Homo sapiens: one gene and its partners. The protein of the gene in region 1 purifies or fractionates together with the protein of each later gene. This does not show direct contact. Each region holds a gene or a part of one and is shown in the gene's direction. Other genes may lie near its edges.

Region 1 (3,500 bases):
GAAGTTTGTGCCACTGTACTCCAGCCTGAGTGAGAGAGCAAGACCCTGTCTCTTAAAAAAAAAAAAAAAGTAGTTCTGGCCTTTTTTTGGGGGTGGGTAACAACTTTATTGACATATTATTCACATACCATACAATTCGCCCATTTAGAATATACAATTCAGTGGCTTCCAGCCTATTCACAGAGTTACATAGCCATCTCCACAATCAATTTTAGAACGTTTTCATCATCCCAAAAAGAAACCCCACACAAGAAACCCCACACTTGTTATCAGTCACCCTGTATTTTCCCATCCATACTAGCCCTAGGCAAGCATTAATCTACTTTGTTTCTGTAGATTTTATCTATTGAGACATTTCATATAAATAGAACCATACACATGTGGTCTTTTGTGACTGGTTTCTTTTGAAACAGTGTCGGAGTGCAGTGGCGCAATCTTGTCTCACTGCAGTCTCTGCCTCCTGGGTTCAAGCGATTCTCCTGCCTCAGCCTCCCGAGTAGCTGGGATTAAGGCAGGCCCCACCACATCCGTCTAATTTTTGTATTTTTAGTATAGACGGAGTTTCACCATGTTGGCCAGGATGGTCTTGATCTCTTGACCTCATGATCCACCTGCATCAGCCTCCCAAAGTGCTGGGATTACAGGCGTAAGCCACAACCCCCAGCCGTGACTGGTTTCTTTCTTTCGTTTTTTGTTTTTTTGAGACAGAGTCTTGCTCTGTCATCCAAGCTGGAATGCAGTGGTGCAGTCTCAGCTCACTGCAACCTCTGCCTGCTGAGTTCAAGTGATTCTCATGTCCCAGCCTCCCAAGTAGCTATGACTACAGGTGTGCACCACTACACCTGGCTCATTTCTGTATTTTTAGTAGAGACAGGGTTTTACCATGTTGGCTGTGCTGGTCTTGAACTCCTGACCTCAAGCAACCTACCTGCCTTGGCCTCCCAGAGTGCTTGGATTACAGGCATGTGCTAACACACCTGGCCTGGTTTCTTTCACTTACATGTTCTCAGGGTTAATCCATGTTGTAGCACATATCAGTACTTCATTCTTATTTATTGTCAAGATTTCATTGTATGGATATAGCACATTTTATTTACGCATTCATCAGTTGATGGACATCTGGGTTGTTTCTACTTTTGAGCTGAATTTTTCCCAATTTTATTTTAAAATACCAACTTATAGACCCAAAAAACTCAGCAAGCCCCAAGCTAGATAAATACAGACATTGTATCTTAGTCAAACTGCTGAAAAAGGAAAAAAATATTTAAAATAGCTAGAAGGAAATAAAAACTATTATATACAGAGGAACAATAGTGCTAATGACAGCTGACTTTACATCACAAACAGTGGAAGCCAGACAACAATGGAGCAATATCTTTTAAATACTGGGGAAGGGAGAAACAAGCAAATATTTAAAAACCCTGTCAACCCAGAATTCTGTGTCTAGCTAAACTATCTTCCAAAAATGAAGATAGGATAAAGGCATTTTTCATCACAAGTAGACCTGCATCATAAGGAATGCTAAAGGAAATCCTGCAGGTTGAAGAGGTATAATATTAGATGGAAAATCAAACCTATAAGAAGAAATTAAGTGTACTGGAAATGATAAATATTTGGGTAAATATAAAAGACTGCCTTTTTTTCCTCTTTTAATTTTTTTGAAAGATAACTGACCACTTAATGAAAAAAACTGTATTATGGGATATATTATATATGTAAAATATATGACAACAATGGCACAAAAGTGATGTTCAGTGTAAATTGACTATCATGAGGTTTTTATGTTGTAACCTAGAGAGCAGCTATTTCAAAAATTTCTAATAAAGGAGGTATAGCTAAAAAAAAATAGAGGAATTAAATGGAATTTTAAAAAAATTATTCACTCAGAAACAGGAGAGAAGAAACAGGACAAGAATAGGAGGGAGAGACAAAAATGAATAGCAGGATGGTAGACTTATACCCAACCATATCAGTAGTTACACTAAATATCAGTGAGGCTAAACACTCCAGTTAAATATCAGATTGTCAGACTGGATAAAAATCCAAGACCCAAATATATATTGTCTAAAAGATATGCACTTTAAATATAAAGATATGAATAGTTGAAAATAAAAGGATGAAAGAAGATGCATCCTACAAACAGTTTACATAAGAAAGTCGCTGTAGTTATATTCATGTCAGACAAAAATATAAGACAAGGAGTATTACCAGAGACAAAGGGGACACGTTATAGTGTTAGAGAGTCCGTTCATTAGGAAGAGAGGATAGCTGGGTGCGGTGGCTCACGCCTGCAATCCCAGCACTTTGGGAGGCCGAGGCGGGCGGATCACGAGGTCAGGAGATCGAGACCATCCTGGCTAACATGGTGAAACCCCGTATCTACTAAAAATAAAAAAAATTAGCCAGGCGTGGTGGCGCATGCCTGTAGTCCCAGTTACTCGGGAGGCTGAGGCAGGAGAATGGCATGAACCCGGGAGGCGGAGCTTGCAGTGAGCCAAGATTGTGCACTGCGCTCCAGCCTGGGCGACAGAGTGAGACTCCGCCTCAAAAAAAAAAAAAAAAAAGAGAAAAAGGAAGAGAGGATAATCCTAAGTGTATATGGACCTAATAATAGTTCTTTAAACTACATAAAGCAAAATCTGACAGATGAAAGGGAGAAATAGACAAATTCACAGTTATAGTTAGAGATTTTAATACCCTTTTCTCAGTAATGATAGAACAATTTGGCAGAAAATCAATAAAGACATAGATGATCTGAATAATGTCATAACCTTGACTTTGTTGACGGTTATAGAACACTATAATCAACAACATGGAACAAGAATGTATTGATGGGTTGTGTATGGTGGCTCACGCCTGTAATCCCAGCACTTTGGGAGGCCATGGCAGGCGGATTGCCCGAGCTCAGGAGTGTGAGACCAGCCTGGACAACATGACAAAACCCCATCTCTACGAAAAAACACAAAAATTAGCCAGTCATGGTGGCGTGTACCTGTAGTCCCAGCTCCTTTTGGAGCTGAGGCATGAGGATGGCTTGAGCCCAGGACGTCAATGCTGCAGTGAGCCAAGATTGTGCCACTGCACTGCAGTCTGGGTGACAGAGCGAGACTCTGTCTCTTAAAACCCAGCATATTGAACATTCACTGAAATGTGCTGAAACATAAAATAAGTCTCAATATATTTCAAGATTAAAATCTTAGATAGTATGTTCTCTGACCACTGTGTAATTAAATTAGAAATAAACAACAAAAAGATATTCAGAAAACCCCCCAAAACTTAGAAATTAAACACTGCACTTCTAAATAACCCATGGGTCAAAAAAGAAATCAGAAGGGATCTTAGAAAATCTTTCTTTTTTTTTTTTTTGAGATGGAGTTTCCCTCTGTCATCCAGGCTGGAGTGCAGTGGTGCAATCTCAGCTCATGGCAACTTCTGCCTCCTGGGCCTCAGCCTCCCAAGTAGCTGAGACTACCGGCATGTGCCACCACACCTGGCTGATT
Region 2 (3,500 bases), on another chromosome or scaffold:
GGAGTTTGAGACCAGCATGGGCAACACAGTGAAACCCTGTCTCTACCAAAAAAACAAAAAATAAATACAAAAATTAGTCGGGCATGGTGGCATGGGCCTGTAGTCCCAGCTACTCAGGAAGCCGAAGTGGAAAGATCACTTGAGCCCAGGAGGTTGAGCCTGCAAGTGAGCTGAAATAGCACCACTGCACTACAGCCTGGGTGACAGAACAAGACCGTGTCTCAAAAAAAAAAAAAAAAAAAGATGCTGTGGAATAGGGGATAAGGAAATTCCAGGAGCCCTCCTAGAGGAGGTTGGACTTCTAAGGCATTTGGATTGAGATACTAAGAGAGGAAGCTAGAGGAGAACTCAGGGACAGAGAAAAAGTTGGATGTGGCCACTGAGAGGATTTGTGTTTAGGAGCCTGGAGCTTACTGCTTATAAGAAGGGATGAATTAGGTGAAAGGGACCTTGAGACAAAGGGAAATAAAAACTCTTAGAGTAATGAAAAGTGAAAATTATTCCCATTTATGTAAAATATATATATTTATGTATGTAGATTCATAGAAAAAAGAGTTAATAGTTTACTCTGGAAAGGGGAAAGGAAAAAGATGGGGGATAAAAAGGAAACTTTCATGTTTTACTCTATATAATTGTGTGTTGTTTGAATCATTTACATTAAGAATTACTTGTGAGCCGTGCCTGTAATCCCAGCACTTTGGGAGGCCGAGGCGGGTGGATCACCTGAGGTCAGGAGTTGGAAACCAGCCTGACGTGAAACCCGTCTCTACTAAATACAAAAAAATTAGCTGGGCGTGGTGGCACATGCCTGTAATCCCAGCTTTCTGGGAGGCTGAGGCAGGAGAATCGCTTGAACCTGGGAGGCAGAGGTTGCAGTGAGCCAAGATCGCATGCCATTGAACTCCAGACTGGGCAACAAGAGTGAAATGCCATCTCAAAAAAAAAAAGAATTACTTGTATAGGCCGGGCACAGTGTCTCACTCCTGTAATCCCAGCACTTTGGGAGGTCAAGGCGGGTGGATGACCTGAGGTCAGGAGTTCAGGACCAGCCTGGCCAACATGGTGAAACCCCGTCTCTACTAAAAATATAAAAATTAGCCGGGCATGGTGGAACGTGCCCGGAATCCCAGCTACTCGGAAGGCTGAGGCAGGAGAATTGCTTGAACCCGGGAGGGGAGGTTGCAGTGAGGTGAGAACGCGCCACTGCACTGCAGCCCCGGCGACAGAGTGAGACTCCATCTAAAAAAAAAAAAAAAGAAGAATTATTCGTATAATACTGAAATTTGACCCTCCTTAAAAAAAGAAGCCCTATGCTCTTTGTGGGCCCAGACGGTGTTGGTTAATGTGTAGCACATCTCCTTTTCTGAGGAGCTTTACCAGGTGCATATTAAAAATTTCCAATACATGCTGGGCGTGGTGGCTCACGCCTGTGATCCCAGCACTTTGGGAGGCTGAGACGGGCTGATCACAAGGTCAGGAGTTCGAGACCAGCCTGACCAACATGGTGAAACCCCATCTCTACTAAAAACAGAAAAATTAGCCTGGTATGGTGGCACACACCTGTAATCCCAGCTACTCAGGAGGCTGAGACAGGAGAATCGCTTGAACCTGGGGAGGCGGAGGTTGCAGCGATGAGATTGTGCCACTGCACTCCAGCCTGGGCGGCAGAGTGAGACTCTGTCTCAAAAAAAAAAAAAAGAAAAAAGAAAATTCCAATATACAAGCATTTTGAGGTTTTTCTAGAGCACAAGGTCAACCCCTATGTGTATAGGGGTGTGTGTGTGTGTGTATGTGTGTGTGTGTGTGTGTGTGTGTGTGACAATTTGTGAAGAGTTCAGGATTAGGATGTGTTGGGATAGGGAAATGTTGGAAGAGATTTCTGCAGGGTATGATGGTCAGAGTGAATGTACCAGGTGTTGAGAGTGAGGAATTTCTCGGGTGGAGTCTTCGAAGAGTGATTGAAACCCTCTACTTCTGTCTTAGGGGAAGTTGGTTAACCACCCGTGTCCACCCTATGCCTTGGCATGGGCAACCAATAGCATCGTGGCTGCAGGCTGTGATCGGAAAATTGTAGCCTATGGAAAAGAAGGTCACATGCTACAAACTTTTGATTATAGCCGTGACCCTCAGGAGCGGGAGTTCACCACAGCTGTATCAAGTCCTGGGGGCCAGTCTGTTGTGCTAGGAAGTTATGACAGGTAAGTCCCCTTTCCAGTTTTATCTACTGCCTACTTTCCCTGCGAACACTCTCTGCTTTAGCCAAATTATTCTGAGCCAGAGTGCGAGACTGGAGCAGAATCAAATGTATGTATGTAATTCATGCGCTTTCCTCTTCCTGCTCCCGCTATCCATTGGTGTGCTGGCAGTTCCAAAATGTCCTGGGCTCTTGTTTTGTCTCTGTGCCGCTCCCTGCACTTCCACAGCAGAATTCATCTCTATTTTCTGTTTCCATTGCCCCCTTTGAGACCGCTTAGAGTTTCTCACATTATATTACAGTTTGTTGTTTGCAAACTACTGTTGTTTAGCCAGATAGATGGCTAAATCAGAGTCCTTGAGAAGGGGGCTTATTATTCATCTTTTCAGTGCCTAGATTAGCATCTATATGCTATATATATTTAAGATATGCTCAGATGTTTGGCGAATGAATGAATGAATGATGGAACAGCAGATAAACAGCCATGTTCCAGGTCTCATCATTTCTCTGGCATGTGTTTAACCCCAGCTTTATCAGTCCTGTCTTTCTATCCCCTTCAATCTTATGTCTCCTTGTATTCTCTTCTTTCTTCACTGACTCCTACCATTTATCTCCTTGTTCCATATTTTTTTGCTCCTAGTAGCTTATTTTTCTCACCTGCCCTGGTCTTTTTGTTTTCTCTGCTCCCCTCACTCTTATTCTGTTTTAGTTTTGCCTTGATTTTCCCAGCTTATTTCCTGTGCACCTTTATATCCTCTTCTGCTAGACTGCCTAGCTTGTCTGTTCTTTTTATTTCCTTTCTTTTCTGATATAGCAAGACTAATTTCCTTTGGTTATCAGCCCATTTGCACTCTTTAGCTCAGCCTCAATCTCTTCTAAAAGCCACATACTTTATTTCAGGCTTCGGGTGTTCAACTGGATCCCTCGAAGAAGCATCTGGGAAGAGGCAAAGCCCAAGGAGATTACCAATTTATACACCATCACTGCCTTGGCCTGGAAGCGGGATGGCTCACGGCTCTGTGTGGTGTGTTACTAGTAATCCCTTTCTGGATTGGTGACTTTCACCAAACTAGAAAAAAATCCTGCCTTATCCTAAAGCACTGTTCCCTGACACTATAGAATCTCCTCTTTCCTTTTGACCCTGACCTAAAATTCTGGCATTAAAGGCAGGAAAGAGAAATTCATACTTTACCCTAGGTCACAAAAGGGACAAAAAATTGTGTGTAGGCAGGGCTAGTTTTTCCCTTTTATCCCATTAATATGTTGTGCCCTTGAGTCCAATGATTGTAGCCTCTTTCCTTTTGGT
Region 3 (3,500 bases), on another chromosome or scaffold:
CAAACAGGTGATGGTTGAATTAGGAAGGTTTTGCTGAGAGTACACCATCGGTTTAGCTGGTCTCTCCTGTCCTTGTGTGGTATTTACCTGGCTTCTTGGTGATTTGTCTGTTTCTCTTACTACTTAAACCCAGCAAAAAAAATAATAAAATAACAATCAAATGCAATAAAACAAAGCAAGCATTCAGCAGGTGAAATAAACATACATCCCATAGACTCTTTGTGTCTGTTCTGTTTTCTTCTTGTTCCAATCCTTCTATCTGATTAGTTTCTTTTCTCTCAGATTTTTTCAGAGTTCGTTCCTCCTGTCACTTTAACTTATAGGAAGTCGGCCCATAATGTTTTGCTTATTTTTCCTTATGAGATTCATTCCATGATTCAACATTTCAGTGCCTTCCGTGCATTGGAATTCAGAGATGCCAAAATGAGTAAGATTGAATCCAGGTGAAGGCGATATGGGAATTCATTGTACTATTCTTGACATTTTTCTGTGAAGTTGATTTTTTTTTTTTTTTTTGAGGTGGAGTCTCACTTTGTAGCCCAGGCTGGAGTACAGTGGCGCGATCTTGGCTTACTGCATCCTCCGCCTCCCGAGTTCCAGTGATTCTGCTGCCTCAGCCTCCTGGGTAGCTGGGATTACAGGCACATGCCACCACGCCCAACTAATTTTTGCATTTTTAGTACAGACGGGGTTTCACCATGTTGCCCAGGCTGGTCTCGAACTCCTGACCTTAGGTGATCCAACCCTACCCCTTGGCCTCCTAAAGTGCTACGGTTACAGGTGTGGATTTTTTTTTTTTTTTTTTTGAGACAGAGTCTTGCTCTGTTGCCCAGGCTGGAGTGCAATGGTGAGATAACTCACTGGTGCGTCCATCTCCTGGCTCAAGCGATCGTCCCATGTCAGCTGTCCAAGTAGCTGGGACTACAGGTGTGTGCCACCATGCCCAGCTAATTTTTTATTTTTTGTGGAGATGGGGGTCTTGCTATGTTGTCCAGGCTGGTCTCCATCTCCTGAGCTCAAGTGATCCTCCCACCTTGGCCTCCCAAGTTGCTAAGATTACAGGCATGAGCCACTATGCCTGGCTGGAAATGAATTCTTTATATCAGAGCTTGCACAAGTGGGCTGAAACAGCCCACATGCATGTTTATTTGGCTCATAATGTTTTGTTTTTTAAATTTTTGAATTAGTTGTCAACATTGAAAAATGAGCAGATTTCTTATAAATACCTGATTGTGGTATTTTCTTGAAAATATCAATAAAGTCTGTTAACACCAAATCAGAATTCTGCATGGCAACAATTGTCCCACCACCCGAGTTAAGTGGAGACTTTGCCCTTTAAGAGGGAGGTGGGCCTGTCTAATGACTGGCTTCTCTCATTGTGTCTGTCACTCCTAGGCCTGTCAGCATTTGTACTTAGAATTCTACTTTAGTATTAACTTGTACAGTTGTGAAAACTCCTGTGGACTTCCTTGTATGCCATACTGGACTATACTTATTCTTTTTGTTTGTTTTTTTGTTTTTAGATAGAGTCTTGTTCTCTCACCCAGGCTGGAGTGCAGTGGTGCGATCTCAGCTCACTACAGCCTCTGCCTCCTGGGTTCCAGTGATTCTCCTGCCTCAGCCTCCTAAGTAGCTGGGATTACAGGTGTGTGCCACCACACCTGGCTAATTTTTGTATTTTTAGTAGGGATGGGGTTTCATATGTTGGCCAGGCTGGTTTCGAACTCCTGACCTCAAGTGATCTGCCTGCCTTGGCCTCCCAAAATGCTGGGATTACAGGCATGAGTCACCATGCCCAGTTTCTTTTTGTTTTAATCTGAAAAAAAGGGAATATATTATCTGCCTTTAGAAACTTCATAGTATGGTGAGAAAGCAGACATAAACAGATGACTACATTTCAACATGGGAGTCCTTAGAAGATAATATTTGTAGAGGTCTTCCCCTTTCCCAAAGCAGTGTGGCCCACTGCCTGCTATTGTAAATAAAGTTTTATTGGAATGCAGCAGCACCCTTTCACATACATATAGTCCATGGCTGTTTTCTTGCAGAGTTGAGTAGTTGTAAAAGAGACTTATGTGGCCCACGGGCCAAAAATATTTACTATCTGGGCCTGTACAGGAAACGTTTGCTGACTGTTGCCGTGGCAGATCTGATTTGATTCCTGAGACAGCTCAATGGGATACTGTGATTGTGTCTGTTTTATACCACACACCTAGTAGGTAGCAGAGCCAGGACTCAGTCGAATAAGGTCTACACTTGGTAGTATGTTATGGAAGGCCCATTTCAGCCTTGTTACTGCCAGTGTGTGGCCAGGTTCTCACACCTGGAGAGTGAGTCTGTGGGGAAGAACTGGCCACTGGGCTGATGGAATAATATACATTTTGAAAGGTACCCGTTTTGACTACATTCCCAGCTCCCTCAGCATCTGGTCCCATGACTGCTTCTCTCTTTCCAAATGGGAGTAGGCTAATGCAGAGCAATGTGGTTGGTTGCAAGGAAGAACTTGAAACTGTTTGCAGAGCACTTTATGTAAAAGTAAGAAAGTGTGACTACTGATGTCCCATGGGGCTTTGCAGCTTTAACAATTGCCCTATGGATCATATCACCTTGAAGTATAGAATTTCTCTGGGGAATTAGCTCCCCTCCAGTCTCATCTTTTTAGACACTTGCCTACCTGCTCTCACACCCAGAGGTTTTACACTGCGCTGTACAGTGTCTATCAATATGTTTTTCCATATTCAAAAATAGTGATTTCAGGCCAGGCATGGTGGCTCATGCCTGTAGTCCTAGCACTTTGGGAGGCTGAGGCAGGAGGATCAGTTGAGCCCAGGAGTTTGAGATCAGCCTGGGCAACACGGTGAGACCCCACCTCTACAAAAAATTGTTAAAAATTATTTGGGCATGTTGACACATGCCTGTGGTTTCAGCTACTCGGGAGGCTGAGGTGGGATCACCTTAGCCCAGGAGGTTGAGACTACAGTGAGCTGTGATCATGCCACTGCACTCTAGCCTGGGCAACAGAGCAAGACCCTGTCTCAAAAAAAAAAAAAAAATAGTAAGGTCATGGTGGCTCATACCTATAATCTCAGCACTTTGGGAGGCCGAGGCAGGCGGATCACTTGAGGTCAGAAGTTTGAGAACAGCCTGGCCAACATGGTGAAACCCCGTCTCTAGTAAAAATACAGAAATTAGCCAGGCATGGTGGCACCTGCCTATAATCCCAGCTTCCTGGGAGACTGAGGTGGGAGAATCATTTGAATCCAGGAGGCAAAGGTTGCAGTGAGCCTAGATCGCGCCACTGCACACCAGCCTGGGCGACAGAGCGAGACTCTGTATAAAAAAAATAAATAAATAAAAAATCCAGGTGTGGTGGCTCACGCCTGCAATCCCAACACTTTGGGAGACTGAGGCGGGCAGATCACGAGGTCAGGAGTTCAAGACTAGCCTGGCCAACATGGTGAAACCCCGTCTCCACTAAAAATACAAAAATTAGCCGGGCG
Region 4 (3,500 bases), on another chromosome or scaffold:
CCTCTGAAGTAGCCAGGACTGCAGGTGTGTGCCACTACCCCCAGCTAGTTTTTAAATTTTTTGTAGAGATGGGGTTTTGTCATGTTGCCCGGGCTGACCTGGAACTCTTGAGCTCAAGCAACCCACCCACCTTGGCCTCCCAAAGTGCTGGGGATTACAGGTGTTCGCCACGGGATTTAAATCCAGGCAGTTTGACTCCAGAACTTGCCCTTTGACCACTCTGCTAGACTATTTCGTATGGGTTTTTTAAAGCAAACTTTGAAATCAAGTAGTCAAGCTCTTTATAGTGATGCTATTGTAAAGCTCTAAAGGCTTGACACTATTAATAATATGTATATATCAACATTACTACACAGAATTCTGCAAGTTTCCCCTCCCCCACTTTATTGATGAGAAAAATGAAACATCTAAGTCAATGGCTTCCAGACTTTTGGACTTTGCCAACAAGTAAAAAACTGTTATGTGTGGGGGACAATTGGGACCAGACGTAAGATCTCCAACTTTTATTTCTGTCAAGGTTGAGAATCTTCTTAAACACTACTGCAATCTGGTCAGGCACATTGGTTCATGTCTGTAATCCCAGCACTTTGGGAGCCAGAGGTGGATGGATCACTTGAGGTCAGGAGTTCGAGACCAGCCTGCCCAACATGGTGAAACCCCGTCTCTACTAAAAATACAAAAATTTGCTGGGCATGGTAGCACACACCTATAATCCCAGCTACTCAGTAGGCTGAGGCAGGAGAATCGCTTGAACCTGGAAGTCAGAGGTTGCAGTGAGCTGAGATCACACCACTGTACTCCAGCCTGGGCGACAGTGATTTTTGAGACTCTATCTCAAAAAAACAAACAAAAAAACTACTGCAATCTACTGTCCTGATCCTTTCCTTAAAAAAGGGACATTTTTACCACCACAAAGGTAGGAAGGTCATAGTTACAACATAAAAACAGAATAAATTTAATATTATGAAAAACTATATTACATTGTGTTAGTTTTTCCTCCTTTGGTCATAGACCAGTCAAAAACATGTCCTAAACTAACACCAATTCAGAGATCATTCAGGAATGCCTGGGTGACACAACTGATTCTGAACTGGTAATTAGCTGAGTCCAGTCCAGATTCACTCTCCAGTCTGTCTGACAGCAAAGCCTGTGCTTGTTGCCCTGTCATGAGCTCTTTCTAGTGAACAGTGTCTAGGGTTTTGGTCTCCTGTGAACAGTCTTTCTCAGGTGTTGACTATTTCCTTCTCCCTCCAGGTAGGGGGCCAGGGAGAATAGTCTCCAGCAGCCAATGTCTTAACAGCTTTAGTCCCAGTCCAGTTTGTAAATACCACCCAGAGGGTGAGTTCCACTGCTTCCCTGTTTGAGGTAGTTCTTTTGTCTGTGCTTACTCATGGAAGGGGCAAGGCAGTGACCATACCAGGGCAAGAAACCACGGGCATATTCCAGTATTCAAGAAACTCTCCTGCTGGGTGTGGTGGCTCACACCTGTAATCCCAGCACTTTGGGAGGCCGAGGCGGGCGGATCACCTGAGATCAGGAGTTTGAGACCAGCCTGGCCAATATGGTGAAACCCCATCTCTACTAAAAATACAAAAAAGTAAACGGGCATGGTGGTGGGCACCTGTAGTGCTAGCTACTCGGGAGGCTGAGGCAGGAGAATTGCTTGACCTAGGAGGTGGAGGTTGCAGTGAGCCAAGATTGTGCCATTACACTCCAGCCTGGGTGACAGAGCAAGACTCTGTCTAAAAAACAAAAAAAGAAACTCTCCAGTAAATAGCTTGATTTTACTTAGTCATTCAAAATTCGAATCCCCACCTTCTTTTATTTCCTGTTTTTACTTCACTCACTCCTATAGTTCTCCTTCTGTCATCTTTGTGTAACATAAGGAGTTAGGTGTGTGTTTTCCTCGTTCTGTCTTGTCTCCAGCAGATATTAAGCCCACCTGTCTGTTTCTGTCTGTAAGTGTTCTAAGTTCCAATTTCGGCAAAGATTGTTTTTTTCCTTAAGTTTTTTTTTAATTATGCCTACTAAAGACACTATTAAAATTACTTTTATATTTTATTTTACTCTATCACTTGCTAATAAAATTATCTAATAGTTTGAATAATATATGTTTTATCTTTAATTATAATACTCTTTTGCATATATTCTCTCATTTAATCATCACAGTTTTCTATGAGGTAGATTTGAGAGGTGGTGTTATCTTTATATACAAGCCAAATTCATTATTTTATTTATTTGTTTATTTTGAGACAGAGCCTCAATCTGTCATAAGGCTAGAGTGCAGTGGCGTGATCTCAGCTCACTGCAACCTCTGCCTCCTGAGTTCAAGCAATTCTCCTGCTTCAGCCTCCCGAGTAGCTGGGACTACAGGCACGCACCACCATGCCCGGCTAATTTTTGTACTTTTAGTAGAGACTGGGTTTCACCATGTTGATCAGGATAGCTTTGAAATCTTGACGTCATGTTCCACCTGCCTCGGCCTCCCAAAGGGCTGGGATTACAGGCGTGAGCCACTGCGCCAGGCCCAAATTCATTATTTGATAGGAGCAAGATTTTAACTAGGAGTTGAAAATAGAAGATTTCGTATATCAGCAACCTGATCTTAACTACTGATTCCAAAATGTATTTTTTGGGGATTGCCTTTGATTCAAAATAAAATGTATTCCATACCATTTTAGATTTGCCTACCTTGCAGTACTAATCACCAAAGTTTGTGTGTGTTTGTGTGTGTGTGTGTGTGTGTGTGTGTCTGAAACGGAGTTTCGCTCTTGTTGCCCAGGCTGCAGTGCAGTGGTGCAATCTCGGCTCACTGCAGCCGCCGCCTCTCGGGTTCAAGCAATTCTCCCACCTCAGTCTCCCGAGTAGCTGGGATTGCAGGCGCCGGTCACCACACCCAGCTAATTTTTTGTGTTTTTAGTAGAGACAGGGTTTTGCCATGTTGGCCAGTCTGATCCCGAACTCCTGGTCTCAGGTGATCTGCCTGCCTCAGCCTCCCAAAGTGCTGGGATTTCAGGCATGAGCCACCACGCCAGGCCCAAAGTTTTAACTGTAGTAAATAATGCTATCTCTCCTGGAAGAGCCACATAAACATATGATGAATTCTTTTAGAACTTCTTTTTAGCTGGGTGTGATGGCTCATGCCTCTAATCCCAGCAACTCACAGGCTGAGATCGGACGATTGCTTGAGGCCAAGAGTTCAAGACCAGCCTGGGCAACATAGCAAACGCCAGCTGTACAAAATATTAAAATTAGCCGGGCACAGTGGCTTGTACCTGTAGTCTCAACTACTTGGGAGGCTAAAGCAGGTGAATCACTTGAGCCCAGGAGTTCAAGACTGCAGTTAGCTGTGATTATACAACTGTATTCCAGCCTGAGTGACAGAGTGAGATACTGTCTCTAAAAAAAAAAATATATAAAACTTTTTTTAAATGACAATTTATAAAATTTAAATGGTTTTTTTTCATCACTTAGCAGAGTATCAACCATCCCAATTTTGT

What was found. Proteins that work in one complex are often made in the same cells at the same time.
Region 2: the proteins of IFT25 (region 1) and IFT172 purify together in Homo sapiens (affinity purification with mass spectrometry; 2 studies listed by BioGRID and IntAct, with this or other methods). This does not show direct contact.
Region 3: the proteins of IFT25 (region 1) and KATNIP purify together in Homo sapiens (tandem affinity purification; one large-scale study listed by IntAct). This does not show direct contact.
Region 4: the proteins of IFT25 (region 1) and ME2 purify together in Homo sapiens (affinity purification with mass spectrometry; one large-scale study listed by BioGRID and IntAct). This does not show direct contact.

Annotation. Positions count from the first base shown.
Region 1 is NC_000001.11:53,932,200-53,935,699, reverse strand, and holds part of IFT25 (intraflagellar transport protein 25 homolog), read left to right. Parts: intron 1-3,500. UniProt on the Homo sapiens protein: Component of the IFT complex B required for sonic hedgehog/SHH signaling.
Region 2 is NC_000002.12:27,479,744-27,483,243, reverse strand, and holds part of IFT172 (intraflagellar transport protein 172 homolog), read left to right. Parts: intron 1-1,983; coding exon 1,984-2,198; intron 2,199-3,094; coding exon 3,095-3,218; intron 3,219-3,500. UniProt on the Homo sapiens protein: Required for the maintenance and formation of cilia. Plays an indirect role in hedgehog (Hh) signaling, cilia being required for all activity of the hedgehog pathway.
Region 3 is NC_000016.10:27,556,644-27,560,143, forward strand, and holds part of KATNIP (katanin-interacting protein), read left to right. Parts: intron 1-3,500. UniProt on the Homo sapiens protein: May influence the stability of microtubules (MT), possibly through interaction with the MT-severing katanin complex.
Region 4 is NC_000018.10:50,882,118-50,885,617, forward strand, and holds part of ME2 (NAD-dependent malic enzyme, mitochondrial isoform 1 precursor), read left to right. Parts: intron 1-3,500.